Linked DNA regions of Homo sapiens. The protein of the gene in region 1 purifies or fractionates together with the protein of each later gene. This does not show direct contact. Each region holds a gene or a part of one and is shown in the gene's direction. Other genes may lie near its edges.

What was found.
Region 2: the proteins of DPEP2 (region 1) and CHID1 purify together in Homo sapiens (affinity purification with mass spectrometry; one large-scale study listed by BioGRID and IntAct). This does not show direct contact.
Region 3: the proteins of DPEP2 (region 1) and SIL1 purify together in Homo sapiens (affinity purification with mass spectrometry; one large-scale study listed by BioGRID and IntAct). This does not show direct contact.
Region 4: the proteins of DPEP2 (region 1) and GFPT2 purify together in Homo sapiens (affinity purification with mass spectrometry, with the first as the bait; one large-scale study listed by BioGRID). This does not show direct contact.
Region 5: the proteins of DPEP2 (region 1) and OS9 purify together in Homo sapiens (affinity purification with mass spectrometry; 3 studies listed by BioGRID and IntAct, with this or other methods). This does not show direct contact.
Region 6: the proteins of DPEP2 (region 1) and ITGAV purify together in Homo sapiens (affinity purification with mass spectrometry; 3 studies listed by BioGRID and IntAct, with this or other methods). This does not show direct contact.
Region 7: the proteins of DPEP2 (region 1) and ERFE purify together in Homo sapiens (affinity purification with mass spectrometry; one large-scale study listed by BioGRID and IntAct). This does not show direct contact.

What each region holds. Positions count from the first base shown.
Region 1 is NC_000016.10:67,989,357-67,993,498, reverse strand, and holds part of DPEP2 (dipeptidase 2 isoform 1 precursor), read left to right. Parts: intron 1-104; exon of another isoform or gene 105-241; 5' UTR 242-286; coding exon 287-549; intron 550-862; coding exon 863-989; intron 990-1,305; coding exon 1,306-1,435; intron 1,436-1,519; coding exon 1,520-1,661; intron 1,662-2,314; coding exon 2,315-2,384; intron 2,385-2,501; coding exon 2,502-2,678; intron 2,679-3,367; coding exon 3,368-3,452; intron 3,453-4,100; coding exon 4,101-4,142.
Region 2 is NC_000011.10:900,383-904,524, reverse strand, and holds part of CHID1 (chitinase domain-containing protein 1 isoform a precursor), read left to right. Parts: intron 1-746; coding exon of another isoform or gene 747-821; intron 822-1,413; coding exon 1,414-1,563; intron 1,564-2,194; coding exon 2,195-2,327; intron 2,328-3,544; coding exon 3,545-3,589; intron 3,590-4,142.
Region 3 is NC_000005.10:139,019,923-139,024,064, reverse strand, and holds part of SIL1 (nucleotide exchange factor SIL1 precursor), read left to right. Parts: intron 1-2,772; coding exon 2,773-2,894; intron 2,895-4,142.
Region 4 is NC_000005.10:180,332,336-180,336,477, reverse strand, and holds part of GFPT2 (glutamine--fructose-6-phosphate aminotransferase [isomerizing] 2), read left to right. Parts: intron 1-524; coding exon 525-650; intron 651-4,142. UniProt on the Homo sapiens protein: Controls the flux of glucose into the hexosamine pathway. Most likely involved in regulating the availability of precursors for N- and O-linked glycosylation of proteins.
Region 5 is NC_000012.12:57,717,745-57,722,312, forward strand, and holds the end of OS9 (protein OS-9 isoform 1 precursor), read left to right. Parts: intron 1-125; coding exon 126-214; intron 215-401; coding exon 402-677; intron 678-1,248; coding exon 1,249-1,438; intron 1,439-2,354; coding exon 2,355-2,519; intron 2,520-2,661; coding exon 2,662-2,774; intron 2,775-3,039; coding exon 3,040-3,165; 3' UTR 3,166-3,813; downstream 3,814-4,568. UniProt on the Homo sapiens protein: Lectin component of the HRD1 complex, which functions in endoplasmic reticulum (ER) quality control and ER-associated degradation (ERAD).
Region 6 is NC_000002.12:186,592,538-186,596,679, forward strand, and holds part of ITGAV (integrin alpha-V isoform 1 preproprotein), read left to right. Parts: intron 1-4,142.
Region 7 is NC_000002.12:238,161,591-238,165,732, forward strand, and holds part of ERFE (erythroferrone precursor), read left to right. Parts: intron 1-3; coding exon 4-126; intron 127-1,145; coding exon 1,146-1,248; intron 1,249-2,146; coding exon 2,147-2,409; intron 2,410-2,484; coding exon 2,485-2,593; intron 2,594-2,679; coding exon 2,680-2,770; intron 2,771-4,015; coding exon 4,016-4,094; intron 4,095-4,142. UniProt on the Homo sapiens protein: Iron-regulatory hormone that acts as an erythroid regulator after hemorrhage: produced by erythroblasts following blood loss and mediates suppression of hepcidin (HAMP) expression in the liver, thereby promoting increased iron absorption and mobilization from stores.

The sequences.
Region 1 (4,142 bases):
CAGGCCGCGAGTGGGCGCCCAGGACAGGGATCCGCCCAGCCGGCGGGAGCGCCCTTGGGGATGACGGCGGGAGGGCTGGGCGCCCCCTGGTGGCCGTACTGGGCGGTGCCGCCGCTCTCCGCACATCCTTCGCGGGGCCCTGTGACTTCGTTACCCTCCTCTTGAGGCCACGCCGCCAGGTGGCCTGAATCGAGGGTCGGGACTCCATCGTCGCGCTCTGCCCCTCGCCCGCCCCTCTCAGGCTCTCTGACTGCCACCCCTGCCTGCCTGCCCGGCCCTGCACAACATGCAGCCCTCCGGCCTCGAGGGTCCCGGCACGTTTGGTCGGTGGCCTCTGCTGAGTCTGCTGCTCCTGCTGCTGCTGCTCCAGCCTGTAACCTGTGCCTACACCACGCCAGGCCCCCCCAGAGCCCTCACCACGCTGGGCGCCCCCAGAGCCCACACCATGCCGGGCACCTACGCTCCCTCGACCACACTCAGTAGTCCCAGCACCCAGGGCCTGCAAGAGCAGGCACGGGCCCTGATGCGGGACTTCCCGCTCGTGGACGGGTGCGTAATTGCTGCAAGGGGGCGATGGGAGCTGAGCACACTCCTGGGCAAGGGAGGGTCCCAGAGTATGCAGGGCTGTGGAGGAGGCTCCCTCACACCACCCCTGGATGCCCTCTCTCCCGTCATGCATGGGTACCCTTTCCCCTCTGTCATCCCCTCTTGGGTGGGCACTCCTAGCCCGGGCCTCAGGGGATCTCAGTATAGTCATGTGACAATGAGGGATGGGGATCCCCAGATGTGTCCTTCCTGAACTGGAGGGCTAAGAGGCCCATCTGTCTGTTCTTCACCTGACCCTGGCTTGACATCCCTCCAGCCACAACGACCTGCCCCTGGTCCTAAGGCAGGTTTACCAGAAAGGGCTACAGGATGTTAACCTGCGCAATTTCAGCTACGGCCAGACCAGCCTGGACAGGCTTAGAGATGGCCTCGTGGGCGCCCAGGTACCACAGGGATACACGAGGTGCCACAGCATGGCTGCTGGGGGATGATGGGGAGAGTGGGGACCCCAGAGATCACAAGTTAGTCACATGAGAACTCAGTTACCATAGTGACCCAAAAAGTGTCATGATATGGATGCTGGGGGCTGCAGAGGCTACAGTGAGCCAGCTTGGTGGCCAGGAAGACCCTGTGGAAGAAGCAGTACATTACATGTGGCCTCCTGGCCCACTGGGTGCTCTGTCAGCTGTGGAGGCTGTGAGCAGTCCAGGGTCCTCCAAAGCAGCCCCCATCCAAGCCAAACCCTGGCCTTCCCCCCAGTTCTGGTCAGCCTATGTGCCATGCCAGACCCAGGACCGGGATGCCCTGCGCCTCACCCTGGAGCAGATTGACCTCATACGCCGCATGTGTGCCTCCTATTCTGAGCTGGAGCTTGTGACCTCGGCTAAAGGTAGGCAAGTTGATGGGAAGCGTTAGGAACTTGATTGAGCTACTCCAGCCCTGGAAAGTAATCACCTGACCTACCTGCCCCCAGCTCTGAACGACACTCAGAAATTGGCCTGCCTCATCGGTGTAGAGGGTGGCCACTCGCTGGACAATAGCCTCTCCATCTTACGTACCTTCTACATGCTGGGAGTGCGCTACCTGACGCTCACCCACACCTGCAACACACCCTGGTGAGCCTAGTGCAGATGGTGTGGGACCGCTGAGGCAGGGGCAGAGATCTGCCTGAGGTCACTGTGGGCCCAGAACAAGCTTTACCCATGGGATGTGGCACTGACTCTGGAGTGGGGAGGGGAGCTGGGATTCTGGTTTTCAGAATACGACTTGACCCCTGGCCAGACGCGGTGGCTCATGCCTGTAATCCCAAAACTTTGGGAGGCTGAGGCGGACAGATAACTTAAGGCCAGGAGTTCGAGACCAGCCTGGCCAAGATGGTGAAACCCTATCTTGAAGAAAAACACAAAAATTAGCCAGGTGTGGTGGTGCGTGCCTATAATCCCAGATACTCAGGAGGCTGAGGCATGAGAATCTCTTGAACCCAGGAGGTGCAGGTTTCAGTGAGCTGAGATGGCACGACAGCACCACTGCACTCCTGCCTGGGTGACAGAGCGAGACTCTATTGCCAAAAAAAAAAAAAAAAGAAAAGGAAAAAAAAGACTGGACCCAGCAGGGCCCTCCTGCTGCCAGGCATGGCCCATTTGCAGGGCCCATTTTGGATCCCTGTTTTTGTTTCAGGGGGGTGCAGGGATGGAGGGTGGGTAGGGCCTCTAGACTCTTGAGGCCGAGGAACAGCTACCAGTCAGACTGCTTCCTGGCCACCCTGCAGGGCAGAGAGCTCCGCTAAGGGCGTCCACTCCTTCTACAACAACATCAGCGGGCTGACTGACTTTGGTGAGGTGAGGACCCTGGTTCACACTCCACCCCAAACAAATGTGCACACCCCAGCTGTTTCTTACAAATAAATGTATACACATGTGCACCCCTGATACCCTTCTCCCAACATGTCCCTGCAGAAGGTGGTGGCAGAAATGAACCGCCTGGGCATGATGGTAGACTTATCCCATGTCTCAGATGCTGTGGCACGGCGGGCCCTGGAAGTGTCACAGGCACCTGTGATCTTCTCCCACTCGGCTGCCCGGGGTGTGTGCAACAGTGCTCGGAATGTTCCTGATGACATCCTGCAGCTTCTGGTGAGAAACTGCCCAGCCCAGGAACCTAAAGCAAGAGGTTCAAACCAGGAGCCCTTCGGCCAGGCATGGTGGCTCACACCTGTAATCCCAGCACTTTGGGAGGCTGAGGTGGGCTGATCACTTGAGGTCAGGAGTTCAAGACCAGCCTGGCCAACATGGGGAAACCCCGTCTCTACTAAAAATACAAAAATTAGCCGGGTGTGATGGCATATTCCTGTAATCCCAGCTACTTGGGAGGCTGAGGCAGGAGAATCTCTGGAACCTGGGAGGCGGAGGTTGCAGTGAGCCAAGATCACGCCACAGCACTCCAGCCTGGGTGACAGAGTAGGACCCTGCCATGGAAAACAAAAACAAAAAACAGGAGCCCTCAAACCTGAGGCCCTGCTCCCTCCACTTCTTCCAACTTCAGGCTGAACATCTTTTGCCCCACAACCCCACAGTCCACATCCAGGAGTCGGGGGTTCTAGATGGTAAATATGTATATTCCTCTACTCCTCAAAGCAAGTGCCAAGACACCTATGCCAGACCAGGGCCTAGACTCCTCCCTTCATACAAAACCAGAGAGGTGAAGTTTCTGCTGACTCCTGAAGTCAGAGCTGAACACCCTCTCCAGGGATCCAGAGGGTGGCAGGGCAGGAATGCAGTTTGCTGAGGGGCCAGGCTAAGTGTCCACTTGCCCGCCCCTGCAGAAGAAGAACGGTGGCGTCGTGATGGTGTCTTTGTCCATGGGAGTAATACAGTGCAACCCATCAGCCAATGTGTCCACTGTGGCAGGTAACTCCCTCTCCCGGGCTCTCTGAACAGTTCTGATTTGCACCTGAAGACTTGGGAGGGCCCCAGGACTGTCCCAGTGGTTTCACTGAAAAAAATGCAGTGATGGACAGTACACAGCACATTGGTCACATGGAGCTGCAGCCACAGAGTCAGTGCTGCGGTCCTGATGGGTATAAGGGAGGAAGCCACACATAGAACCTGAGTGCTAACTATCTGCGCCTCTGCAGGGGATCCCCAAAGCACCCTTCCTCGGCCTCTGGCCAAGAGACTAGAAGGGGAAGGCCCCTTAGGTCTCTGGGGTCTTTGTCAGTTGTACTCTTTGTCCCTCCGTCATCTCCCACAACCATAGAAAAGAGTTCCTACCAGGTTCTCAAAGAGACTAGAGGCAGGTTTAATCCTAGGTGGGAAATGGCCCAGACAAGTGGCTCTGTGGATCCACTCCAAACCTGAAATCCAGGCCAGAACCAGCTGAATCCATTCAGGTCAAACCTCAGGGTTCTCAGGTTGCCAAGCTATGTGGCAGGCCATAAAGGAATTAGCCTGCCTGGCCCACAGGCTGCAAGAAGGAGACTCAGTGCCATCCAGCCCCAGTGGCACCCCTGCCCTGGAAGCCCTACGCAGCTGACTGTCCACCTTCCCCCTCCCCAGATCACTTCGACCACATCAAGGCTGTCATTGGATCCAAGTTCA
Region 2 (4,142 bases), on another chromosome or scaffold:
GCACCTCTGAGTGAGCAGCCTCTGGAGCCAGGTTTTGAGGGCAAGCAGGGTGCCTCCCCACTCACCCCACGTGGGGCTTGTTTTATGTGCCAGTTGCCAGTTTCCATGCTCTACCTCTCGTTTATATCACCTGCATCTTCATCTTGCTGTCTTTATCATGGCCTTGAGCTGTGTTTGCCTCATGCTTTTTGGGACGTTCCCCTGGGATGGCCCTGGGGATTGCACCTTCAAGGGTGTAAACTCATAGAACCACCTCTCAGCCCCAGCAGTCCCCATGCCGCTGGCCAGACCCTGCCACAGGACTGTAACTGTGACCTAGTCCTGGACTGGCAGATGCTTTCTCTGTGCTGTATGGGGGCAAATAAACCATGCAGTGGACATCTCTCTCTCACGGGGCCGCTTGGGGCGAGGTCAAGGGGAGGCTGAGCCGGGCCACAGAGTGTGGACAGAAGAGACAAGTTGATAACTGGATGGAAGGTTTCCAGGAGCAGAGGTGGAGTAGGGGCAGGTGTGACATGGCAGGAAAAGACTCGCATTGGCCAGGGGGGTGGCAGGCAGTGGTTGACCAGCAGGGTTGCATTGGTGGGGGTGGTGGCAGGCAGTGGTTGGCCAGTAGGGTCGTATTGGCGGGGGCGGTGGCAGGCAGTGGTTGGCCAGCAGGGTCACGTTGGCGGGGGCGGTGGCAGGCAGTGGTTGGCCAGCATGGTGGCGTGTGCCTGGCATGTTCTTTTCTTTTTTTTTTTGAGGTGAAGTTTTGCTCTTGTTGCCCAGGCTGGAGCGCAATGGCGCGATCTTGGCTCACCGCAACCTCTGCCACCCAGGTTCAAGCGATTCTCCTGCTTCAGCCTCCCGAGTAGCTGGGACTACAGGTGCCCGCCACCATGCCTGGCTAATTTTTGCATATTTAGTAGAGATGGGGTTTCACCATGTTGACCAGGCTGGTCTCCAACTCCTGATCTCAGGTGATCCACCTGCCTCGGCCTCCCAAAGTTCTGGGATTACAGGCGTGAGCCAATGCACCCAGCGCACCTGGCATGTTCTTGTCCAGCAAAGCGTATGGCCCTGGAGTGCCCGGATGGGTATCGAGTGGCCAGAGCTGGTGCAGACCGTCCACCCTCACATGCAAGGAGGGAGCCACCATAACTGTCTGTCTGCCTGCCTGCCTTCCAGCCCGGAGCAAGGGTGGGAAAGGCCCTGTACCGTCGGCCAGTGTCTGTTGACGGCCAGAGTGCTTCTGAATTGAATTGCCTGCTGTGGCCTCGATCCTCAACATACAGGGTCTCCGGGTCAGCAGCACTGTGTGGATCCAGAGACTCGGCTGCTGGCTGAATGGAAGGGACTTGCTGGGTGGGGCTCTGTGCTCTACACTGTGGACAGATGACTGAGGCTTTTCTCTCACTCCTTTTATTTCAGAGTCAGTTTTCAGATAAGCCGGTGCAAGACCGGGGTTTGGTGGTGACGGACCTCAAAGCTGAGAGTGTGGTTCTTGAGCATCGCAGCTACTGCTCGGCAAAGGCCCGGGACAGACACTTTGCTGGGGATGTACTGGGCTATGTCACTCCAGTAAGTTGGGGCCCTCACAGTGCAGAGGGAGGTCCTGAGGCTCAGGTGGGCTGCCCTGGCCCCGTGATGGCCTCTTCTGGCCAGTCAGTGATGGGGGTCTATGTTCTGATCTCCCGGAGCTGCTGCTGCTGTGAGGCTACGGTGGGAGAGATGCCATTCTGGAGATGTCAGAGTGTAAGACCCTGGGGGTCTCTCCAGGGGCTTGCTGTGCTGATCTCTGTGGGTTCCCCCTGAATCCAGAGGTGGGCTCGCAGGTCGTCTGGGGTCAGGAAGTGGATGTGCAGAGCCAACCCTGGGCCAGGGAGGGGTGGGTTCTCACACCCAGCCTCCTCTTCTCTTGCTGTTCCCAGCTGCCAGCCTGCAGCAGTGGTGTGCACTAGCTCCAGGTGGGGCTTAAGACAAGCACCAGTCACTTTTGGTGAAAGGGATGTCGTGGCCTGGGTCCCAGGCTGTGAGTGGCAGTCCAGAGTAGGAGAAGGATACCCCAGGCCAGGAGCTGATGTCAGTCCGGGCTGGTATCTGTCTACGCTGGCCAGCCCTGGGCACGTCCAGAGGCGCCAGAATGACAGCACCATGGTGAGACAGGTGCTCACTCACCTGTCCTCCGTCTGATGTCTCCATCTTTTGCCAGTGGAACAGCCATGGCTACGATGTCACCAAGGTCTTTGGGAGCAAGTTCACACAGATCTCACCCGTCTGGCTGCAGCTGAAGAGACGTGGCCGTGAGATGTTTGAGGTCACGGGCCTCCACGACGTGGACCAAGGTTCTCATCCTTCCTGCTTGACTGTGCTTGCCCCACAGGCTGAAAAGAGTGTGAGTGCGAGAGCAGGGGTGTGTGTGTGTGAGTAGGTATGTCTCTGTGGGTGTCTCTGTATGGGAGTGTGTGTGTGTCTCTGCGTGATTTAAGTGTGAATGTGAGTGTGTAAGTGTGAGACTGATGATGTGGGAGAGAAGAGATTGTGAGTGTGTTGAATGTGACTGTCGGTGTGGACATGTCTAAGTGTGAGACAGTGGGTGTGAGTGTTGAGTGTGGTGACTGTGAGAACCACGCCCTCACCCCTTGGGGCCCAGCCGGCAGAGCAGGCCCATGGTGTGGGCTGGTGTGCTAAGTGGGAAGGTGAGTGTGGAGCAGGGCAGGCCTGGTAGAGGGGGTTTCTGAGGTGGTCGCCACGGTGGGACCCTCTGCAAGGCCAAGTTGGTGCCTCAGAGTGTTCCGCCCAGGTCTGCGTGTGGTCCAGGTGGCTGTGAGGGTGGCCTTCCCTTGCACTTCCGGGCTGCACACAGGCGTGTGCAGGACAGGCTCTACAATGACTCAGGCAGCCTCTGGGCAGCAAACGGCACGGGCCATTGGCTTCTCCTCCTCTGTCCCTCTCTCAGCGATTTTCATTCAATGCCAGGGAGGAAGGTGGGGTTCAGGCGGAGGCTGCCTCCTGATGGCACATCCTGACCTGATGACGTCTGCCCGAGTTTACGTGGCTGCGCCTTGCGTTTGGGCTCGGACAGAGAGAAATGGCAGGGGAAGTGTTAGGCAGTTTTGGAGTTCAGAGAGCAGGAGTGGTTTTCCCTGACACTGAGAGAACCGTGGGGAGGTGATGGAATGTCAGCCAGTGTCAGGGCCTGGCGGGTCTGGCCATCCCTCAGCTCGGAGAAACCCTGACCGTCCCCAGGCCCTAGGATGCAGCTGCCTGTTCCCCTGGCCGGCCACAGGCTCTGAGCTGTCCCAGCTCAGGGAGGGTAAGCTCAGAGCTGCTCTGCAGGGTCAGGAAGGGGGCCTTGGCCAGAAGGGTGGAGAGTTGGGGTCAGGAAGAGGGTGTGGAGAGCCAGCCCTGGGCCAGGGAGGGGTGGGTTCTCACACCTGCCTGCCCGCCCCTGCCCTTCCCATTGCGTATTGTGCGGCTGCCACGTTTTCCTCCTCAGGTAGGCTGGGTCTTCCAGTTGGGCGCACGTGCCTGTGTTGACTGTCCCCTCCATGTCCCACAGGGTGGATGCGAGCTGTCAGGAAGCATGCCAAGGGCCTGCACATAGGTAAGTGCGGCAGGCCAGGAGTGGAGGCCCTGATGGCTCAAACTGCGGGGGTGGACAGGTGGGCACTGGGGTCTCCACGTGTTCCTGATCACCCGGCTGTGCTGCTGCGGCACAGGTTACTTTGACCGCTCAGAGATGAGGCTGGCCCTGGCCTGGCATTCACAGCCCTTAGTCTGGCTGGAGTCCTGAGCTCTCCTCCCCACACAGGCTGTGGCCCTCCAAAGCCAGCACCTCCTTGGCCAGTGGCATTGCCCTAATTGTTCTCAATCCCATTTCTTCCTTCATTCACATGATGAGTCCTATCAGGGCAGCTGGGGCCAAGCCCTGGGCTTGGCCTGAGGGTGATGCTGACCCTGGCCCATCTGTGCCCCTGTAGCTCACGGCTGGGGAAGGGGGGACATGTGTCCCCACGTCCAGTAGCAGCCTCAGAGGCAGTGGATTAAGAGCACAAGTTGCCAAGGGAGAGACTCTGGGGGATGCTAGAAGCAGGTGACAGGGCTGAGCTGGAGCAGCCAGAGTCTGTCCCAGCCTCCCTCCTGTAAGGTGGGGCCAC
Region 3 (4,142 bases), on another chromosome or scaffold:
GCCCCAACAAAGTTCTTTGTTTTCCCTTGTAGGCTCTTTGTCACTTGGCAGTGTCTTCCCTAAGGTGACATCCCCATTCTGCTTTCACAGGCCACCTCACCAGACCCATCCTGAGGTCATCCCAAAATCAGTCCCTGGCAGAAGCCAAATTTGTCTGTTGGCAGAGAAATGTTCTGGATCATTGGTGTTTTGACTGGAAGGGCTGGTGCATCAGGCTGCCATGCAGCAATGTTAAGCTGTGATTTCACTGGGGGATTAAGTAAGACACAACTCGGCCCGAGTCCCAGTTGTGATGGGGGCTTGGGGTGATGTAGTACTAGTTTTAAGGAAGATGGCACTTTCCTAGCCAGGAACTTCCCCAGTCCTTTCTCATTCCAGACTCACTGAATGGTGGTTTGAGGAGCTGTAGGCTCCAAGGACCCAAACCAGGTCTGCCAGGCTTCCTCACAGCCATATTTGAATTATTAAACAGGATATGTGAAAAGCAAAACCTTGTGTGTGGAAACAGATGGTGAGTTATTTATGAGGAGCGGCCTCCGTCCGCCCCATCTACCTCGGGCAGTACATTTGCCTTCTCCCACGTGTCTCCTCAGCTGTGTGCCACCATTTTTCCCCTTCGCTGTTTCCCATTCTCTCATTGTCTTATCAGTGCCCTGCTTCTTTCCTTTCCTCCAGGGTGTTGGCATAGTTCCCTCCTGCACTCCCTCCTCCTCTTCCTCTCTGCCTGTCCCACCCCACCCCGAAGGCAGCCTGAGAACAGTTTTGGCCCCAGACCGAGATGGGGAGCTGTGGACCTGGGCTATGGTCATGGTTTCTCCTGTATGTCACCAGGGGGGGGCCCAGCTTTTGATGTGCACTGGGCAGAATGAATCGTTTCTTCCTCACTGTTAGTGAAGTAAACCATGAGAAAACATCCCAAAAAGGCTGAAGTGCTTATATAAATGTCTGCATTTCTATCATGCTGAATTATCATTGTAGTAATAGTAGATAAACTGACTCTAGAACAGAAGGTCCATGATTCTGGGCTGTGTTGCTTTGGAGCTGACCGAGTGGCAGCTGCTCTGCTAGGAACTCATACCAGCTTTATAAGTGGCCATTCCAGGCGTGGTATGACAGGATTCTGAGCCATAGTTTTGTATCCAGAAAACCCAGAGGAAGGACAACCAAAGAATAGGTAGTGAATTCTTACATTGTAAAATTAGAGCATGTAGGGAAGGAAGGAAGGTGCTTATGTCAGCAAAGCACCCAACCCTGAGTCTCCCTAGTTAGCTGGGCTGTGGCTCAACCAGTTATTCCTCTTCATAAGAACAGTTTGGGGCAGAAAAATGTCCATGGCCTGGGGCCACATGGCAGAGCAGACTTCATGCTTACTTCACAACCTGGTTTAGCCATTACTTCATGTCTGCGGTACCAGAGGCCCATTCATTTTGTTGGCACAGATACCCCAGATTGCCTTTTTATTCACACTGGAGCTTTATTTCAGGAACATTCTTTTCTGATCAAATTCATACTCATTAATGCAACAGTTATTCATTGAACACCTAACCATATGCTCAGCACCATCCTAGTCCCTGGAGCTACAAGCGTGGACAGACAGACAAAACCCCTGCTGTCATGGAGATTCCATCCAAATGTGTATGAATATGATTTTTCAAGTGGCAACAACAGGCTAGGCCACCACAAAACACTAGCACAGTCAAATACCAATCCTCACACTTGATTTCTCTGTCAGAGTCCTCTCCTAGTTCAGAGAGGCAAGGATGCAGTTGGGAAGGGGCCCTGTGGAATCTGGAGGAGAAAGATGGGTAGCAGCCACAGTTGTTGGGCTTCAGCTTCCTGAGTTTTCCTCATGATTGATAGCGTGGGATTAGCATATGGGCAAGATGCAGCCTTTGTGGCAACAAAGATATATTCGAGGGAGACTGTAGCGGGTACATGTAGAAAACAGGATCCAGTGACCTTTCTGAGGAAAGCGAGTTGTCTTGTTCCAGGGTACTAATAAACTGTGGGTAATGAGATCCGCTATAGAGTAAAAGAGAGAATCCGGACTTGGGGATTTGGAGCTTAAATGATAGCCTAGACCAATGCTGTTGAATAGAACTTTATGTAATGATAGAAATGTTCTGCACTGTCTGATACATAGCCACTAGCCAGTAGCACAGGCTTAGACAGAAACCTTTGGGAGAGCGATTTTCTTGCATATTTTATCATGAATGTCTTCAGATGCAGTCAACCTGAGATGCAAGAGAAAGGTACTATTGTTATTCCCCCCTCCCCAGCACTCTTACGGCAACCCCCCTCCCAATAACAGGGCTCCTTTTATAGTCCCTAGCTTCTAATTTAAAATCAGCTTTAAAAATCTGCCTCCACTGTCCCCATTGGGATTGGACATCAGCAGGAAGCATGGCACCATTTAGTGGTGCTGATGACGCCAGATTCTTTGTGTTAACAGCTTGTACATTAGGAGCAAGCTTTGTGACTCATTATGATATTAGAATTTTCCAGGACATGTTTGGCATAAGCAATAGCTAGGTGTCATTTCTGCTGATTCCCACGCAGGTGCTCATCAATCGTGTTAGATGAATTAGGAGTTCTCAAATTTAAGAGTATTAAAAAATTGGTTTTTACAAACCTTTTCTTAGTCAAAAAGGCCATTATTGATTTTTCCATGGCTTTTTAATTTGTTTTTGGGTAGTCACCAAAAGAAAGGCTCTAAGAACAGCTTTCCTGTCCCTGATGGCTATGCTGTACTAAGCAGTGGCTCTGTTGCAGATGGACAATGCGCAGGACCTGCTTTCCTTTGGTGGTCTTCAAGTGGTGATCAATGGGCTGAACAGCACAGAGCCCCTCGTGAAGGAGTATGCTGCGTTTGTGCTGGGCGCTGCCTTTTCCAGGTGAGCAGTATAATGGACGTCCCAATGGCCAGAATTGCTTGGCCTGATCTGCTTGGAAGAAGGGTACACTTGAATGTGCCTGTTGCTACTGACATTTCAGTGTCATCTCAATGAAACTAGAGTAAAATTTGATTCTGCCCTTATTCCAAGTAGATAGGAATTTTTACCCATGTTGTCACCATCTGTGACTCTCTGTTCCCCCATCTTATGTGTATGGACATTTAATAACACATCTTAGGTCACATTCTCTGTTTTATTCAAAGCTTGTAAAAAGTTAGACCAACTATAAATAGTAGAGAGGGAGGGGAATAAACAAGAGTAGGTCTTTTGGCAGTAAAGCTACATCTAGTGACGAATAAATGATGAGCCTGACCAAGGGGGTGCTTTCAGGGAGGAATGTGTCTTGCCCTAGTTGTCTGGAACCAATGTACATGCCGTCAGATTATCGCCCTCTCTAGGTTGGAAATTGTTGAGAATTTCAGTTAGTCTGGCTTGTGATGGAAGACTGATAAGGCAAGAGGAGTGGGGAGGTAGCATCTCGAAAGAGTAGATGCCAAAAGATATGTAGGCACCACATCATTCTACACCACCTGCAAAGGTCAAGATATCTGCATGCTGCAATTGGTCCATTGGAGCTATTGTTCCTCCCATTTTTGAAAATCTGCTCTTAGGACCATTTGTGCCTTTAAAACAGGAACAAATATTCTGATTCTTGCTGCAAGGGCATGGGTGGAGGCTATTAGATGCTTAGATGCAGGTCACGATGTTACAGGAGAAAAGCTATTCTGAACATATTTACCATTATAGGCTTTGTTTCGAGAAGATTTCCTTTGTGCTTTATCTGTGCTTGTTTTTTAAATCAGAATCTCAGTCTGATGCTCTCTCACTCTGAAAGGCATTCAGCATATTTTCTTAGTAAGTTGAAGGGCAGAGCTGGGAAAGCTGGAGGAGTTGTTCCATGAGGAGAGGCACTGCCGGCCTTTGTTTCCGTTATCACCACTCTGCCTGGATCTTCAAGCCCTGGCTCCCTGTGTTGGTGGTGTTGACAGTCAAGGCTCTGGCCTCAAGGGCAACTCCACCTCCCTTGGTCTCACCTCCCAGAACCAAAGTCTCCCAGGAAGCCCAGGGAAATCTCCTCCTGTGCAGCCACTGGAAAGATGGAAAATCTGCATGTTTGACGTTAGTATCTGCGGTTTCAGTCATGAGGAAGTCCAGGAAATCCAGGGTCTTAGCCTTATAAGGCTTTAG
Region 4 (4,142 bases), on another chromosome or scaffold:
TAAGTGGAGGACCTCTGAGTGGGAGGAGCCGCTGCAGCGCCGGCCGCTTTCTAGGACCGTATTCCAACAGCGCCGGAGAATGGAGATTCTCCTTTGTCCCAGCTCAGATAAACAGAGGGAGGGCTAAGCCCGTGCTGTAAAACCGGGCTTCGCAGGGTATGGGATGGTTTATTTTAGGTGGTGGCGGCGCATGGATAATTTTTTTAAGTGTGAAGGGTTACATACAGTAGTTATTTTAATTATTCCAGCAAATGATACTGCTTCTCTGTTTATGGTAGGGATATATCATTTTCTTTTTAAAGCAAGTTTATTTCTGTGAAGAAGTGAGCTAAGCTACAGACAAGTAGTAAATAACCTTCAGCACGGGTGGTTTGTGGGCCTGCGCGGACTCCCAGGGTGGGAGCTGGTGGGGAGGTGCCATCGGTGTGGGTGACGTGACTTGGGTAACGACACCAGGTTGCACTCACAGTCCTGGGTCGAGGCTTGTTGTTCAAGTGCGGCAAACTGATTTTCCTTTCATTTAGAACAAGACAGCATGGACTTAAAAGTGGAGTTTGAGACACACTTCGGCATTGCCCACACGCGCTGGGCCACCCACGGGGTCCCCAGTGCTGTCAACAGCCACCCTCAGCGCTCAGACAAAGGCAACGGTATGTGGCATGCTTCCCCGTCCCCATGGTTCCACCTCACCCTGAGCTGTGTCAGGGCCAGTGCCCGCCAAAGCAGGTTCCGCGCCCACCTCTAACTGACTTCTCAGCCTACTTCATCTTCCCAAGAGAATGCGGATGTCCCCTCTCCCAGAGCTCTGCCAGTGGCCTGGGCCTCAGTCAGGAGGCAGGCAGCCTGGTCCTAGGGTGGTGCTGGCCTCCCAGGAGTGCACAGGAAAACGATGGCACTTAACCAGGAGAGCTGCTGGCTCCTTGGAACCCAGCCCATGAGTGGGATGAGGCCGCGTGAGGGACTGAGGGGCCTGGGCACTGTTCCTCCCCAAGTGACGGAAATGCTGCAGAAGGGTGTACCCTTCAGGCAAGGATGGGTTCTGTCCTTATGCAGCTAAACCTGTCTTTTCCCCACAGAGTGGTCCAGGTGAGGGCAGGGGCTGTACTGGTCTTGATTGGTGCCACCAGACACACCGTGGGCCCCAGCGGGAGACCTCAGCAGCCAGGGGCTTAGGGTTTGGAGAAGTAGGGGCCGCAGCCCGAAGCCCAGGGGCTCTTCCCAGGTGGAGAGCCCTCAACTCAGCTTGCTTCATGTTCTTAAAAGTTGAGAACCACTGTGCATAAAAGTCCAGACTTCTGGCATCACTTGAAAAACTGGAGGATCTGGAAACACTGAGCTGACAGCACGTTGGAGCACCACAGATTGGCAGAGGGCCAAGGTTGCTGCACCTGCTGTCCTTGGTGGGTTTCAGGCTCTCCTGTTCGCCCAGTCACCCCCTCAGGCCAGCTCACAGGTCTGTGTCACTTGCATGGGTCGCCAGGACAGTTCTCCACGCGTGATTCTCTTAAATGACACCCTTGCCCCCTCTCATGGGGGAAAGACTGGTAGGTCTGCAGCTCCTGGTGGCAGTTCTCAGGGGTCTGTGGTCAGCCCCAGGGCGCCGGGTCCCCTGCAGTGGGATGCAGTAGGCATGGAGCAGAAGAGAGGATCTAATCCCTGTCTCCTCCCAGGCCTCCAAGGGCAGGCAGGAGTCTAAGACATAAGCTGGGCCTTCCAGGGGGTCCCCCACTCTAGGTGAGGCCTGGTCCAGTCACGAGCCCCTGAAGCCCCCAACCTGGACATGCCAGGGGAGGGTGTACAGCAAAGACAGTGATTTCTGAAGTCAACTGGACCCCCCAACCCAAGACATCCTCTGGCATAGTGTAAGTTCGTGCCAAGCCTAATGTTAGATAGGACCAAATACATCAGAGCAGTTACTGGGAGCTTATTAGCAGGCACTAAGCCTTGACACTTGACAAGTCCCACTGCGGTTAATCCTTGTGGAAGTCAGGCCACAGGAGAGCAGCACCAGCCTGCTTGGTGTCCCCCACCCACTGCTGATCAGTGGTTCTCCGAGGCAGTGTAACTGGGCGGGATGGGCAGGCACCCCCACCACCCACAGAAAGTGCAGTGGTGCTGCTTCTCCCCAGAGCACTCTGCAGGGCCTCACCAGCTCACCCCGCCCAATTTGGAAGGGAAGGCGTCCCCCAGAAAACGGAAGGAGAGCCCCATCCACCCTGCTCAGCAGAGCAGCTTGGTGGTAGCACAGGAGCCAGGGCTACTCATGCATCCTAGTGATCAGGGTCTTGAGGGAGTGAGGTTTTTGCGAGGGCCTCTTCCTTGGGTCTGGCTCATGCCCTGAACCATAGGGCATTTCGTGACTGAGGCACACACCCTATGTCCAGGAGGAGGACAGCAGACCCCATGGTGCTGAGGACCTAGAATGTACATCTGGCCAGAGCCCAGGTCAAGTGCAGAAGCTGGTCCCTGGGGCAGTCGTGCTGGCCGAGAAAACACTGCGCCCAGACCATGTGCCCTGAGATGTTGCCACTTTAGCCACAGCCTCCTGCCCTTCCCAGTGATAAAATGAACCTCATTGGAAAATCCCCCACTTCAGTGTAGATGATGATTCTCATTGTGTCCCCAAAGCAGGGAGGCTCCCAGGAGGCCCACCCACACCCAAACTTGGACACTCCAGCCCTGACTCAGGATGAGTAATTGAAAAGAAAACAACAGGACAATAAGCAAAGATTTATAAAATTTCTTTGACACTCAGCAGTGATAGCTGAAGAGCATGCTTTTAAGGAAGTCTGAACGCCCAGCAACTATACCACACAAGGAAATTACACAAAGATTCTGCAGAGACAACATGGATTCCAGAAAACAAATTAATGATAGGATCATAGACTGAGATGAAAGAAAGTGTAGCAGAATTAAGAGAATAATGTAAAGAAACAATATCACCGGCCAGGCATGGTGGCTCACGCCTGTAATCCCAGCACTTTGGGAGGCCGAGGCGGGCGGACCATGAGGTCGGGAGATCGAGACCATCCTGGCTAACACGGTGAAACCCCATCTCTACTAAAAATACAAAAAATTAGCCAGGCATGGTGGCGGGTGCCTGTGGTCCCAGCTACTCGGGAGGCGGAGGCAGGAGAATGGCGTGAACCTGGGAGGCGGAGCTTGCAGTGAGCCGAGCTCGCGCCACTGCACTCCAGCCTGGGCGACAGAGTGAGACTCCATCTCAGAAAAAAAAAAAGAAAGAAAAAGAAACAATATCACCATAGATATAAAAAAATGGAGAAGGGGATGGACGTGGAGCCAGTTAATATGGATCCAACATATGGGTAACTGGTGTGCACAAGAAGCGATCAGAGCACAGAGCAGTAAAAAATAAATAAATAAATACATAAAAAATAAAGCTGAGCTGTGGTCAGCACATCTGTTGAAACTGGGCTTTTCTTATTTAAGCCCTCCCATTTTTGGGTGTGACCTCACAAAAACAAACACTACAATTTTTTTAAATAGAGGAAATCATGGTGAGAATAAAGAAAAAGAATAATGGAAAAGATTTCAAAAGATGCTGTGGGAGAAATCTTTCCCGAACTGAAGGAAAACTTGAGTTGGATATCCAAAGAAGGGATCAAAAATAGTCAATAGACCAGGCACAGTGGCTCAAGCCTATAATCCCAGCACTTTGGGAGGCCAAGGTGGGTGGATCGCCTGAGGTCAGGAGTTCGAGACCAGCCTGGCTAACATGGTGAAACCCTGTCTCTACTAAAAAAATACAAAAATTAGCCGGGTGTGGTGGCGAGCACCTGCAATTCCAGCTACTTGGGAGGCTGAGGCAGGAGAATCGCTTGAACCCGGGAGGCAGCAGTCGTGGTGAGCCAAGGTCACGCCACTGCACTCCAGCCTGGGCAACAGAGTGAGATTCTGTCTCAAAATAATAATGGTAATAATAAAAACAAATAAGACTTCACAGTGATGCTTTGAAAAAAATAGTCAATATTTATGAAGCGTATCCCACATCTAGACACCTCCTGGTGGAATTATTGAACCTCAAGGGTAATAGGGAATCTTTCTGTCCTCTAGGGGGAGAGGGAAACGGAGCTACTTGCCCAGAAAAATTCTCAGGCTGGCCTTGGATCTTTCCCTCAAGG
Region 5 (4,568 bases), on another chromosome or scaffold:
ATTGCACCACTGTGCTCCAGCTTGGGTGACAGTGCAAGACTCTGTCTCAAAAAAAAAAAAAAAAAAAAAAAAAAAGAATTTAAACACAACAGAACAGGTTCATGATTATTATTCTTTCATCTCAGATTTTCAGAACAACGTGCAGGTCAAAGTCATTCGAAGCCCTGCGGATTTGATTCGATTCATAGAGGAGCTGAAAGGTGGAACAAAAAAGGTATAGGCCGTGCTTAGGGAATGGGTAGAACCCACCTCCCAACTGCGAGCATTTGAAAAACTACCCTGACCTGGGACTCAACTCCTGGGTCCCCCAGTACCACACACCTGCTACTGTTTGTCTGCCCCCGACCATGTGTCTCTGTTGAAACCCCAACTGTCTTTCTCCCCACTCCCTACCCACCCAGGGGAAGCCAAATATAGGCCAAGAGCAGCCTGTGGATGATGCTGCAGAAGTCCCTCAGAGGGAACCAGAGAAGGAAAGGGGTGATCCAGAACGGCAGAGAGAGATGGAAGAAGAGGAGGATGAGGATGAGGATGAGGATGAAGATGAGGATGAACGGCAGTTACTGGGAGAATTTGAGAAGGAACTGGAAGGGATCCTGCTTCCGTCAGACCGAGACCGGCTCCGTTCGGAGGTGAAGGCTGGCATGGAGCGGGAACTGGAAAACATCATCCAGGAGGCAAGCCCAGCTCTTCCTCCTGTTGCTTCCACAGCCGCCTGGTCCCGTGGAGCAGGACAGGCTGACGGGCTAAAAGAAACAGAGGGCACAGCACAGGGCAAGGACGGGGCACTTGGAAGTGGTAGCTGTTTCCCTAATTAATCGGGGCTGTTGGGGAAGGGGGACCAGAGAGAGGGACAAGACTTAAATATCAGACTCTCTGGCCAGGCGCGGTGGCTCACGCCTGTAATCCCAGCACTTTGGGAGGCCGAGGTGAGCGGATCACCTGAGGTCAGGAGTTCAAGACCAGCCTGGCCAACATGGCGAAACCCTCTCTACTAAAAATGCAAACAAATTGGCCAGGCATGGCAGTGGGTACCTGTAATCCCAGCTCTTTGGAAGGCTGAGGCAAGAGAATCGCTCGAACCCGGGAGGCGGAGGTTGCAGTGAGCCGAGACGGCACCACTGTACTCCAGCCTGGGTGATAAGCAAAACTCCATTTCAAAATATCAGACTCTCCTACAGAGCCCAGCCCGCTGGCTGCCTCCACACCCCAGACCCTTGACTCACTCTCTTCTCTTGGGTATTCCAGACAGAGAAAGAGCTGGACCCAGATGGGCTGAAGAAGGAGTCAGAGCGGGATCGGGCAATGCTGGCTCTCACATCCACTCTCAACAAACTCATCAAAAGACTGGAGGAAAAACAGAGTCCAGAGCTGGTGAAGAAGCACAAGAAAAAGAGGGTTGTCCCCAAAAAGCCTCCCCCATCACCCCAACCTACAGGTGAGAGCAGTCAGACAAGAAAGAGTAGCCCAGTCTGTTGTTTTCATCCCTCAGCTGGTTCTGTTCCCAGAGGGGACCCTGTTCCTTCCCTTCTGAGGGTGCTCATTCTCTCCCCACTTTCTGGAACACTGTCCTCACTTGCGCCTGCTTCCCAACACCATCATCCCTTTGCGTGTTTACCTCCTATTCATCCCTCTGGGAAGCAGCTTTTAGAGCATATCTGCTGGTTTTCTGGTTTGCTCCTGTACACCCAGTGCCTAGCACTCTGCCTGGCACACAATGGATGATCAGTAGCTAGTAATTGAATGCTTGTGAGTCTATATGCTGAAAACCACTTTAGGACTTTGCACCAAGAGAGGCCCCAGCTGTCAGGGCATGAATAGGAGAGCCCAGCTGCACATGAGCCAATAGCTTGGATAGACTTTAAATTATTTCTTCTTCTTGTATCCCCTTGTGTCCATTTCATAGTGTCCTATGGGTGTGGACATCAGATATTCTAAATGGAATGTTCCAGTTTCAAACCTTCCATTCCCACTCTCTCTATAAACATTGAAATGTCTTTAAAGTCCCAACATATGGAGGAGGAGACCACACTTTTCCAACCTGCTTCTTCAAACAGAACTTTGTTGGTGCAGGTGGCCTGATTTTGGCTTTAGAAAACATTTGTTTTCCTATAGGTGACGGGCAGAATTATTGGGTAGGGCGGGAAGATGGAAGGCTGCAATTGGTGGAGGGAGCTCTACAGGCTGAACTGGGAGGGGCGGGGCACACATTTTTTTGAGCCCTGGCTCATATACATGTTGAGATGGAAGAGCTGCCAAAGCCAACTGATGTTTTAGGGGGAGATGACCCCCACACCCCTAACCCTGGAGTCACGCCTCTGCTTTGTGTTTCCCTGTGTGTCTCCCCCTCTAAGAGGAGGATCCTGAGCACAGAGTCCGGGTCCGGGTCACCAAGCTCCGTCTCGGAGGCCCTAATCAGGATCTGACTGTCCTCGAGATGAAACGGGAAAACCCACAGCTGAAACAAATCGAGGGGCTGGTGAAGGAGCTGCTGGAGAGGGAGGGACTCACAGCTGCAGGTGGGCCCTGGAGGGCGGCTGGACCCAGTGCTGTCGGAAGGGCAAGCTGCCGGAAGTGGAGGGGCTGGGACCAGTGGGGCAGGGGGCCTGCCCTGAGGCTCCCAACCATCCTCTCCTCTCACTGCATACTGCTCCTTTCCAGGGAAAATTGAGATCAAAATTGTCCGCCCATGGGCTGAAGGGACTGAAGAGGGTGCACGTTGGCTGACTGATGAGGACACGAGAAACCTCAAGGAGATCTTCTTCAATATCTTGGTAAGAGGCTTCTACCCCCGAGTCCTGGCCCCCAGCCCTCCTGGAGTGGAGGTGCGGGCTTGCCCCAGCCACGCCATTGCTGAGCTTCCATTTCCTGATCTGTAAGACAAGGCTGGGGTTCCAGTGGCTCAGAGTGCTGCCATGCAGGAAGAGCCCCTCAGGACATGGGTGTCCTCATTCCCTGCCTTCCCCCAGCTGCCTGGCCCAGGACTTCCCTGGGCTCAACGGCCAGTAGCTCCAGCCCACCTCTACCCTCTCCCACCAGGTGCCGGGAGCTGAAGAGGCCCAGAAGGAACGCCAGCGGCAGAAAGAGCTGGAGAGCAATTACCGCCGGGTGTGGGGCTCTCCAGGTGGGGAGGGCACAGGGGACCTGGACGAATTTGACTTCTGAGACCAACACTACACTTGACCCTTCACGGAATCCAGACTCTTCCTGGACTGGCTTGCCTCCTCCCCACCTCCCCACCCTGGAACCCCTGAGGGCCAAACAGCAGAGTGGAGCTGAGCTGTGGACCTCTCGGGCAACTCTGTGGGTGTGGGGGCCCTGGGTGAATGCTGCTGCCCCTGCTGGCAGCCACCTTGAGACCTCACCGGGCCTGTGATATTTGCTCTCCTGAACTCTCACTCAATCCTCTTCCTCTCCTCTGTGGCTTTTCCTGTTATTGTCCCCTAATGATAGGATATTCCCTGCTGCCTACCTGGAGATTCAGTAGGATCTTTTGAGTGGAGGTGGGTAGAGAGAGCAAGGAGGGCAGGACACTTAGCAGGCACTGAGCAAGCAGGCCCCCACCTGCCCTTAGTGATGTTTGGAGTCGTTTTACCCTCTTCTATTGAATTGCCTTGGGATTTCCTTCTCCCTTTCCCTGCCCACCCTGTCCCCTACAATTTGTGCTTCTGAGTTGAGGAGCCTTCACCTCTGTTGCTGAGGAAATGGTAGAATGCTGCCTATCACCTCCAGCACAATCCCAGTGAAAAAGGTGTGAAGCACCCACCATGTTCTTGAACAATCAGGTTTCTAAATAAACAACTGGACCATCAATCCATCAACCTTTTTTGTGGGGTGGGGGTTCCAGCAGGGAGAAGGCTCAGTGTTCTTTTCAGATCATGCTCTGATCCTGTTCTTTGCTCCCCATTCCCCAGGTACTATAAACGGGGGCTGGGGTATGCAGGAAGAGACCAGGGTAGCTAAACAAAGCCTGGCCTGGCAAGGATTGAAAGAAACACTTGCAATGCTGTCATCTTCCTTTTCTCATCTGTCTGTTTCTGTTCCTTCCCTTTTGCACCAAGTCTTTCCCTATTGTTTCCCCCTTTATACCCTGAAAGCCAAAATGCACACCATGGAGCTCCCCCCGGCGGGGATCTTCCTTCTGCTGTGGTCTCTCCCATATCATGCTCCAGATTCCATTTGTCATCCACACCCCTACCCACCTGTCCTTTCAACATTTTCCAAAAAGACCTCCACCTTTGGGCATGCGCAGAGAGAGGGCTGCTGCCCACACATGCCAGTTTCTTAGTATGCCCAAGGGTACATGGGCCTGGTGTCTCCCTTTCTTCTTCACTACCAAGTGCAGGCATGGGTCCCCCCACATGCCTCCTCCCAGTGCAGAGGACTCTGATTTTGTTTGTTTTGTTTCGAGACAAGAGTCTCACTCTGTTGCCCAGGCTGGAGTGCAGTGGCCTGATCTCAGCTCACTGCAACTTCTGCCTCCCAGGTTCAAGCAATTCTGCCTCAGCCTCCCAGTGACTGGAATTACAGGCACACACCACCATGCTCTGCTAATTTTGAGTGCAGAG
Region 6 (4,142 bases), on another chromosome or scaffold:
AGTGTAAGATAAATGAGAGGCTGATAAACTTTAAGTGTTTTTTTTTTTTCCATGAAAAATGCAGTGATGTTGAACTCTTCATGATATTTGCTACTGCTGATTACAAACCAGGGTGACTAATCTTTGGCCAGTCATTATAATCAATGAATGTGTTATGACCTCACAGGTTTACATGACTTCACTCATAGACCTTTAATGATAAAGTAAAATTGAACTTGGGTTTGGTTGCATATAATATTTTGAAATATTCATCAGCAACTTTGTTACCGATAGACTACAGAGCTCTAGGTATAGGTAACTTAAAAAATGGAAACCAACCTTGAATTTTTTTCTTTTTTCTTTTTAAACAAAACGTATATAAACACAGGTTTTTACTTACTGAGCTTTTCAGATTTAACAAAAATTTATGTAAAATTTTGCTGAATTTTCTAGAAGGGCACTTTAAATTTAACAAGCATTGGAATCCAAGGTACTTGGGATGCCATTTCCAATATTACCAGTTGGATTTATTGTTATTTGGTATTACCATAAACTTTTAAAAGAAAAAAAGCCACATAATGAAAAAGTATTTGTCAATTCAAGAGCGCCTTTCTTCTGAGGGGAGAAGGATTTGTGAGGAGCAGTGGTTGTGACGTCCACTCCTGTTGCTTTTTCCAGTTTTGGTGTCCACATACCTTGGGGAAGCTGTAGAATTATTTTATGCCTAATTTTTCTCTTTATAGAAAATTATTATTGAATTATCTGCATAGTTCATAGTTTTGTTGTGAAAATTAATGAATCAATATTTATTAAAGGGAAGGACAAAGTACTAAGCAAAATGTTAAGGCGGCCCCTCAAAAAATCACTCCAGAAATGAGTCAGGTTCGAAGTAAAAATTCACAAATATAGTGATTTTCAAAATTATGAAAAAACATTCGCATTCTGTTTTTTTTTCTATAAGCATTTATTTATGCTATGTTGTAAAACTTACATAAAATTTAAAGATTGTATGCAGGCTAATAATTAGAGTCATACTTTTCTTGTGGAGACTAATTGGAAAAATTAAAAATTACATCCTAGGTTTAATTATAATGATGACATCTTATTTTGGTAAACATATTTTATAATTTGCTAAGCACTTATATCTCATTTCATTCTATAGCCCACACCACCGGGGGGAAGTAAGGGGAAGCAGATATACTCATTCTTACAGATGAGGAGGAAATGGAGGCAGAACCGTTTGCAGTCTAGTTATTTGAGTAGGTTGGTGTGAGTAGAGGGTAAGGAAGGGAAGGATCCGAAGACAGGGTGTAAAATTCAAATCCCACTTTTATTAATTCAAATATTGAATTTTTAAAGAAAATAACTGAACAATTTTAAAATTCATTCTTCAAATATATGTTATACAGTTCTCATTTTATGTATTTCTTTATTTTAAAATAATGCTATAATGAATGACACTGGATTCTTGCCTTTCCCCCCATTAAACGCTAATGGAGCCTTATCTTACAGTTGGCAATGTGTAGATGTGTATGCCTTAGAAGCAGAAGGTCCTTCAATGGTTCTCAGTCCTAACTTCATGTTTGCAATATCTGGAAAGCCTTTTAAATAAAACTCTTGCCCTGGCTGTATCTTAAATCTAAAAGTAGATCTCTGACTTGATATTCCAGTGGCCTGGCCTGTGAATCATTTCTCGTTGACTAGCCTGTCTTAACTCAATTTGACTAAAAAGTCTTCACCAAGAGATGTTAGTTGCACCTCTGTTTCTATTAATGCTGGCATCATTTTCTCTGTCACCTTGGAAATACTTTCATATTCCTCCCTCTCATGTTCTATTTTTCTGTGTTTCTCCTACTTCACCACCTTAATATCAGTCAGTGATTAGTCAACAGGCAGAAGCTCCTAGAAATTCTTCCTTTTTAAGGTTTTCTTGATTCCATCTCTGCTTTCTACTCCTTATTTCAGTGTAGTTATGACAAGCATAGTCAGTGGCACTCAGGTCCTCCCCCATCCCTCTGCCCATCATTTGGCTCTTAAACGTGCAGAACATCTTGTCTGTTTCTATTCATTTTATCTTTCTGTAACATCCTTTTTCATCCTGGTATTCTGTTGCAAAAATTTTCATAATAAAGCTTCCATTGCCAGCAAGAAAGTCCAAACCGCTTAACATGGATTAAGGTCACTTGCAATCTGTCCCAACCTGTGTGTATTTTTAAAACTTCATGTACCATTTCTACTCTTACCATTTTAACCCTTTTCACAACACTTTACAAAATGATGCCAGCTCATTTTTTATAAACTTCAGAGTAGCTCTGATTATATTGGCTGATTTTTCTCATCATAAATAATATACATGTATATTAGGGGACATAAAACTAGGCTATAATTTTGTTATTTAGAAAGCAAATCCTATATTACTTCTGATTAAGGACATATGATGTTTCATAGAGCATTATGAAAGACAAGGGAAAATATGTGGAAATTGTAGTTACTGCTTCTGTTTTACAGTAGTTGTTGACTGGCATTTTTGTTTTTCTTTTGATTCAAAAAAGCATTTTTTAAAAAATGAAAAGTAAATCTGAAACTGGAATTGTAGCTTTGAAATAACATTCAGTACTATTTCATACACATTTATTTCTATATACATGTATGATAGTTTTTCAGAAGTTCCTTTTGGTGAAGGCTCATTGGTCAACTCAGAGTCAGCTAAATATATTAAACATGCTTTATCTTAGAAAGGTCAGTGCTGAAAGCAGACAAACAAGTTAGTTTATTTGGAGGGTTTGAAAAATGGACTTGTCATTGTTTGGCAGGTTGCCCCTCCTTGGTTGTCAAGGTCACATTCCGTGAATCAACTGCCCTTCAAGTACAGTTTGGATAGGGAGTGCATCCAAAGGCCATCCTCCTGATTGGTTCCTCTGAGCCTCTTGTCTGTCTCCCTCTCACTGCCTCCTCTGATACCTCTCCCTCTGTATCGCTCTCTCTTTTTTCTTTTTCTGTCTCTTGTCCTTCCTCTCTTTTTCCTTTCCTCTATCTCTTTTCTTCCTTTCCATCCATCTTTCTGTCCTCTCTCCCAAACTCAATCCTTTATATTTTAGCACTTCTTGGCATGGATGTAAACCTTAATTTTGAAGTCCCAGAGAGTTATTTAATGGCAGTGTTTCCAGTCATTAAAAAAAAAAATGTTGAGGATGGGGATTCTGATGATGTTCTTGGACATACTTTTTGGAGGGAAATGGAGTCTATCAGGAGAGAGTTGCGGGCATAGGAAATTAAGTCACTCAGCTTCAGATTTACACTGCTAATCAGTGAAAACTCTTGTCAACCTTACCTCACCCTGTGTATTCTCCCCACCTCGCCACCATTGATAAGAAATGTTTAAGCTGGCTTTTCTACCCTTCTTTCTCTTTTTCTTCTTCATTTGAGTTAATCACTTGACCATTAATGGCCCTTTGAAAACACTGAGGAAAGAAAAGCCCTTTTAAAGACAGAATTTAAGTTTTACATTTTCTACTCTTCTAGGGAATAACTTATTAATGGCATCAATTGTTTTCAGGACGAAGATGATAATTAAATCCCATCATCTTGTATTTTCGTGGTGTTTCAGATTTTCTAAGTTTGCATTTATTTATTATCACCTTCAGAAAGTTTCTTTTTAAAGTAATTACAGTGGGCATTGTTATTGCCATTCGATAGAAGGGAACAGAGATTCAAAGTTACTGCTTCAATTGATTTGCAGTGTTTGTAAATTTTAATTCCAAACTGTTTCCATTAGATAGTGCTGCTTAGATCACAAACATTTTTTTTCTGGTCTGTCAGTTCTCTTACCCTAATTAAGCTGTTGTACACTTTCATTAGTCATTCTTAGATGAAATTCAAGTAACAATTATTTTTATGGAGTGTTTTATTAACTTTGTTTTTTGTAGTATGTGTTGCTTTTTTTTTTTTTTTGAGATGGAGTCTTGCTCTGTTGCCCAGGCTAGAGTGCAGTGGCACAATCTTGGCTTGCTGCAACCTTCGCCTCCTGGATTCAAGCAATTTCTGGCTAACTTTTGTATTTTTAGTAGAGATGGGGTTTCACCATGTTGGCCAGGCTGGTTTTGAACCCCTGACCTTAAGTGATCCTCCTGCCTTGGCCTCCCAAAGTGCTAGGATTACAGGCA
Region 7 (4,142 bases), on another chromosome or scaffold:
CAGGAGCCCACCGCTGAGCGTGCACACAGCGTCGACCCCCGGGACGCCTGGATGCTCTTCGTCAGGCAGAGTGACAAGGGTGTCAATGGCAAGAAGAGGAGCAGGGGCAAGGCCAAGAAGCTGAAGGTGAGGCCGGCATCCCGTCAGTGCCAGGCCGTGGGGGGTTCCGCCTCCTCGCTCCTCATCCACTCCCACTCCTACATCCTGAACATTTCCAATAGCACACCCCTCACGCCTCGGCCTGGGGACAGAGAACAGAGAGAACCCAGGCAGCCCCAGGGGGAGCCCCGAGTTAGGGGCCTGGTCCCAACCATTTCCCCACACCCCTAAAATGCCAGGCTCTCCCTCTTTTCTCCTCCCTCTGCATCCAGGCCAGGGAGGCTGGGCTAGCCCAGGCTGTGGTGAGAACCTTGTCCACACTGGAGGGGCCTGCAGGAGTGCCTGGCTCCCAGGGACTAGGGGCACAGGGTCCCTCTCACCCTCACTCAGCCTTAGGTCTTGGCCTGGGCAGAAACTTGGTGCTTGGTCCTGGTGCTGCCTCCTGCTTGGAGCCCCCAAAATGGAAAATACGGGGTGTGGGCTTCTCTGTCCCCTGGGGGCCAGTATCACCTGCCTGGGATCTGAACACACGATGGAAGGCCAGCTCGGAGTGCATGAGGCAGGTGCACAGGCCGCGCTGTCCTCGTGGCCTGGCCTTCTACCTCTGCCCAGCCTCCTGGCCCTGCCCTAAGCTTCTCCCCACAGGGGGCTCACTGGCTTCTGGTTCGGGTCCCAACCCAGCCTAGTGGGGACCTGCTGATGGTGGACTCGGGCCCAGTGCAGACCCTGAGATGCAAGTCCCCAAAAGCAGCCTAGAGTCTTCTTCCCTCCACGAGGCCTGGCCGCAGGAGCGGGCTTCAGCCCTCTGCCTCCCCACTCAGAGCAGAGTCCTTCCCTGCCAAAGCCCCGCCCCGAGGGCCCCCACCTCCAGCACAGTCCTTGTACTCACTCCAGGAGAAGCTTTCACTGAGGTAGATCCTTGGCTGGAGGTTGGAGCCCACTGGGGAGCTCTGTTGCCTGCCTCTTAGTGGCAAGAGCTTGCACAGGGGATGCTGTGGCTCCCAGCCTGCTCCTCACATGTCCTCACTGCCAAGGTTCCCTTTCAGTTCGGCTTGCCAGGGCCCCCTGGGCCTCCCGGTCCCCAGGGCCCCCCAGGCCCCATCATCCCACCCGAGGCGCTGCTGAAGGAGTTCCAGCTGCTGCTGAAAGGTAGGGGTGTGCACCGGCTGGGACACACACACCCCGCTGTGAGCAGGGCCTGGGAGGGTGTCCCGAGGAGCTGACAGGGCCAACCTCAACACTTCGGCGGGCACCCAAGGAGGCACCTGCTCTGGGCTGGACTCAAGGACAGTAGAGCTGGCCAGGTCCAGTCTCTGCCCCATCTTGGCCCATGTCTGCCAAGGGTCAGGGCTGGGGATGGCTGGGGGTTGGGAACCATGGCCAGGAGAAGGCTTCACAGAGGAAGGTGGACCTGGCCACTCAGTATGGCGGGTGCTCAGGGACCAGCGCCTATGCCCTGCCTGGAAGTCAGGAGAGCCCAGCGAAAGGCAGAGGCTAGTGTATGGGGCAGCACCAGGTGGAGCTCAGCCTGGCACCCACAGTCACCACTGGCCAGGGCTGGGGCAGCCTGCCCTGGAGGAGGCAGGGCTGAGTGGAGCCGCGGAGTCCACACTGAGGCCTCCTGCAGAGCGGCGGCTCACATTAGTCATTAGAATTGAGCCGTTTTTTCCTTTTAGTTCAATGTCCTGTTCGTTTAAATATAGCACCTTCTGCGCTGAAGAACCTCCTTGTACTTCCAGTAAAGCTGCAATCGCTTATTTTACCCCCAGCGTCTTTGGAAAATGTGGGTGGGGTAGAGGTGAGGCTGGAGGCCAAGGGCGCTGGGGCACTTCTGCCCGAGCTTCCCAAATCTTGAGGGAAACGGGAGCCGCTGCAGGGTCAGGACGCAAAGACTCCGAGGCCCTTCAGGCCGAGGGGACGTCGCCCTCGCCCCACCCCTGCGCCCGGCAGGCCCCTGGTCTCGCTAGCACCTGTCGTTCAGGGCTGGACCCACGCGGCGGGCGGGTGAGGGGTCCCTGGCGCGCGGCCACCGCTCGCTCTGTGCCAGGTGCGGTGCGGCAGCGGGAGCGCGCGGAGCCCGAACCCTGTACGTGTGGCCCCGCCGGGCCGGTCGCTGCGAGCCTCGCCCCGGTCTCGGCCACCGCCGGGGAGGACGACGACGACGTGGTGGGGGACGTGCTGGCACTGCTGGCCGCGCCCCTGGCCCCGGGGCCGCGGGCGCCGCGCGTGGAGGCCGCTTTCCTCTGCCGCCTGCGCCGGGACGCGTTGGTGGAGCGGCGCGCGCTGCACGAGCTTGGCGTCTACTACCTGGTGAGTGCCGGCGCGCGGGAGGGCGGGTGAGTCCGGCCGGGCGGGAGCCGGGGTGACCATCCGTGCCCCTCGCAGCCCGACGCCGAGGGTGCCTTCCGCCGCGGCCCGGGCCTGAACTTGACCAGCGGCCAGTACAGGGCGCCCGTGGCTGGCTTCTACGCTCTCGCCGCCACGCTGCACGTGGGTGAGGCCCGGGGCGTGGGAGGATCGCCCGCTCTGTCGCCCACCCCGCCGCCCGCCCGCTTGACCACGTCCCACCCTCCCCCGCAGCGCTCGGGGAGCCGCCGAGGAGGGGGCCGCCGCGCCCCCGGGACCACCTGCGCCTGCTCATCTGCATCCAGTCCCGGTGCCAGCGCAACGCGTGAGTGTACCCCGGCCCGGACCCCACACCCGCATTCGCTCGGCCTCCACAAGCTGGAGGTGGTTAAACAGGCACTGGACGGGGCTTCCGCCCGTTCACACCCCACCGTGGCCTAGGTGACCCCACACCTTCTTCCAGGTCTCCCGGTCTACTTCTGCCCCTATCAGGCCTTCCCTTCACAGCAACTGGGAGCTGTTAAAAATGACCTTTCCAGCTGGGCGCGGTGGCTCACGCCTGTAATCGCAGCACTTTGGGAGGCCGAGGCGGGCGGATCACGAGGTCAGGAGATCGAGACCATCCTGGCTAACATGGTGAAACCCCGTCTCTACTAAAAATACAAAAAATTACCCGGGCGTGGTGGGTGCCTGTAATCCCAGCTACTTGGGAGGCTGAGGCAGGAGAATGGCGTGAACCCGGGAGGCGGAGCTTGCAGTGAGCAGAGATAGCGCCACTGCACTCCAGCCTGGGCAACAGAGCGAGACTCCGTCTCAAAAAAACAAACAACAACAACAAAAAAAAACCTTTCCAGGCCACTCCCTGCCCAGACCTTCACCTCCTCCCCAGGTCCTAGGAGGCCGGGCTCCTCCTAGCCTCCCAACTCCTTCCCACCTCAGGGACTTTCATCTTGGGGCTCGAAGCACCAGTGTTACTTCAAGAGGCCTCTCCAGACAGCTTTCTGGAGGCCCCCTCCTCAGTCGCCCTCCCACTCCTCACCCGGGAACTTTCTTCCCCATGATCGCATCCCTTGCTCCTGCACCATCTGGCCCACGAGTGCAGTGACTGTGAGCTCCCTGTCTCCCCACACCCAGAAGGGAGCCCAGGTACAGCGGAGATACCCTGCGGGTAGGATAGCTGGAGCAGACTTGAATGAATGGATCAAGTCCAAAACTTCTTAGTCTGCCTTTGAACCCCCAGAGTGTGTTGGCCTGAACTAACTTAGCATCACCTGCCACCACATCCCCACTTCCGGCTGCATCAGCCAGTGTCCTGTTTCCCATCAGAGCCAGGGCTTTGCTGCCTCTTGCTGGGCCCTCGCCTTGCCTTTCCCAATACAGCAAGCATGCCTCTGGCCCTGTGTCCTTCCTCCTCTTGGGGACTCGGTTCAGACACCACCTCCACTGGAAGACCTGGCCAGGGTCAGGCACTTTGCTGGGCATGTGTTGGCTGCTGGCAGGATTGTGTGTCGTAGGTGAAGTTGGTGGGGTCTCATGGGGCAGGCTGACCCTCCCTCTGTTTTGGGTACAGCTCCCTGGAGGCCATCATGGGCCTGGAGAGCAGCAGTGAGCTCTTCACCATCTCTGTGAATGGCGTCCTGTACCTGCAGGTGAGTGCGGCAGGCTTGGGCATCGAGGGGCACCGCCTGGGCATGGCC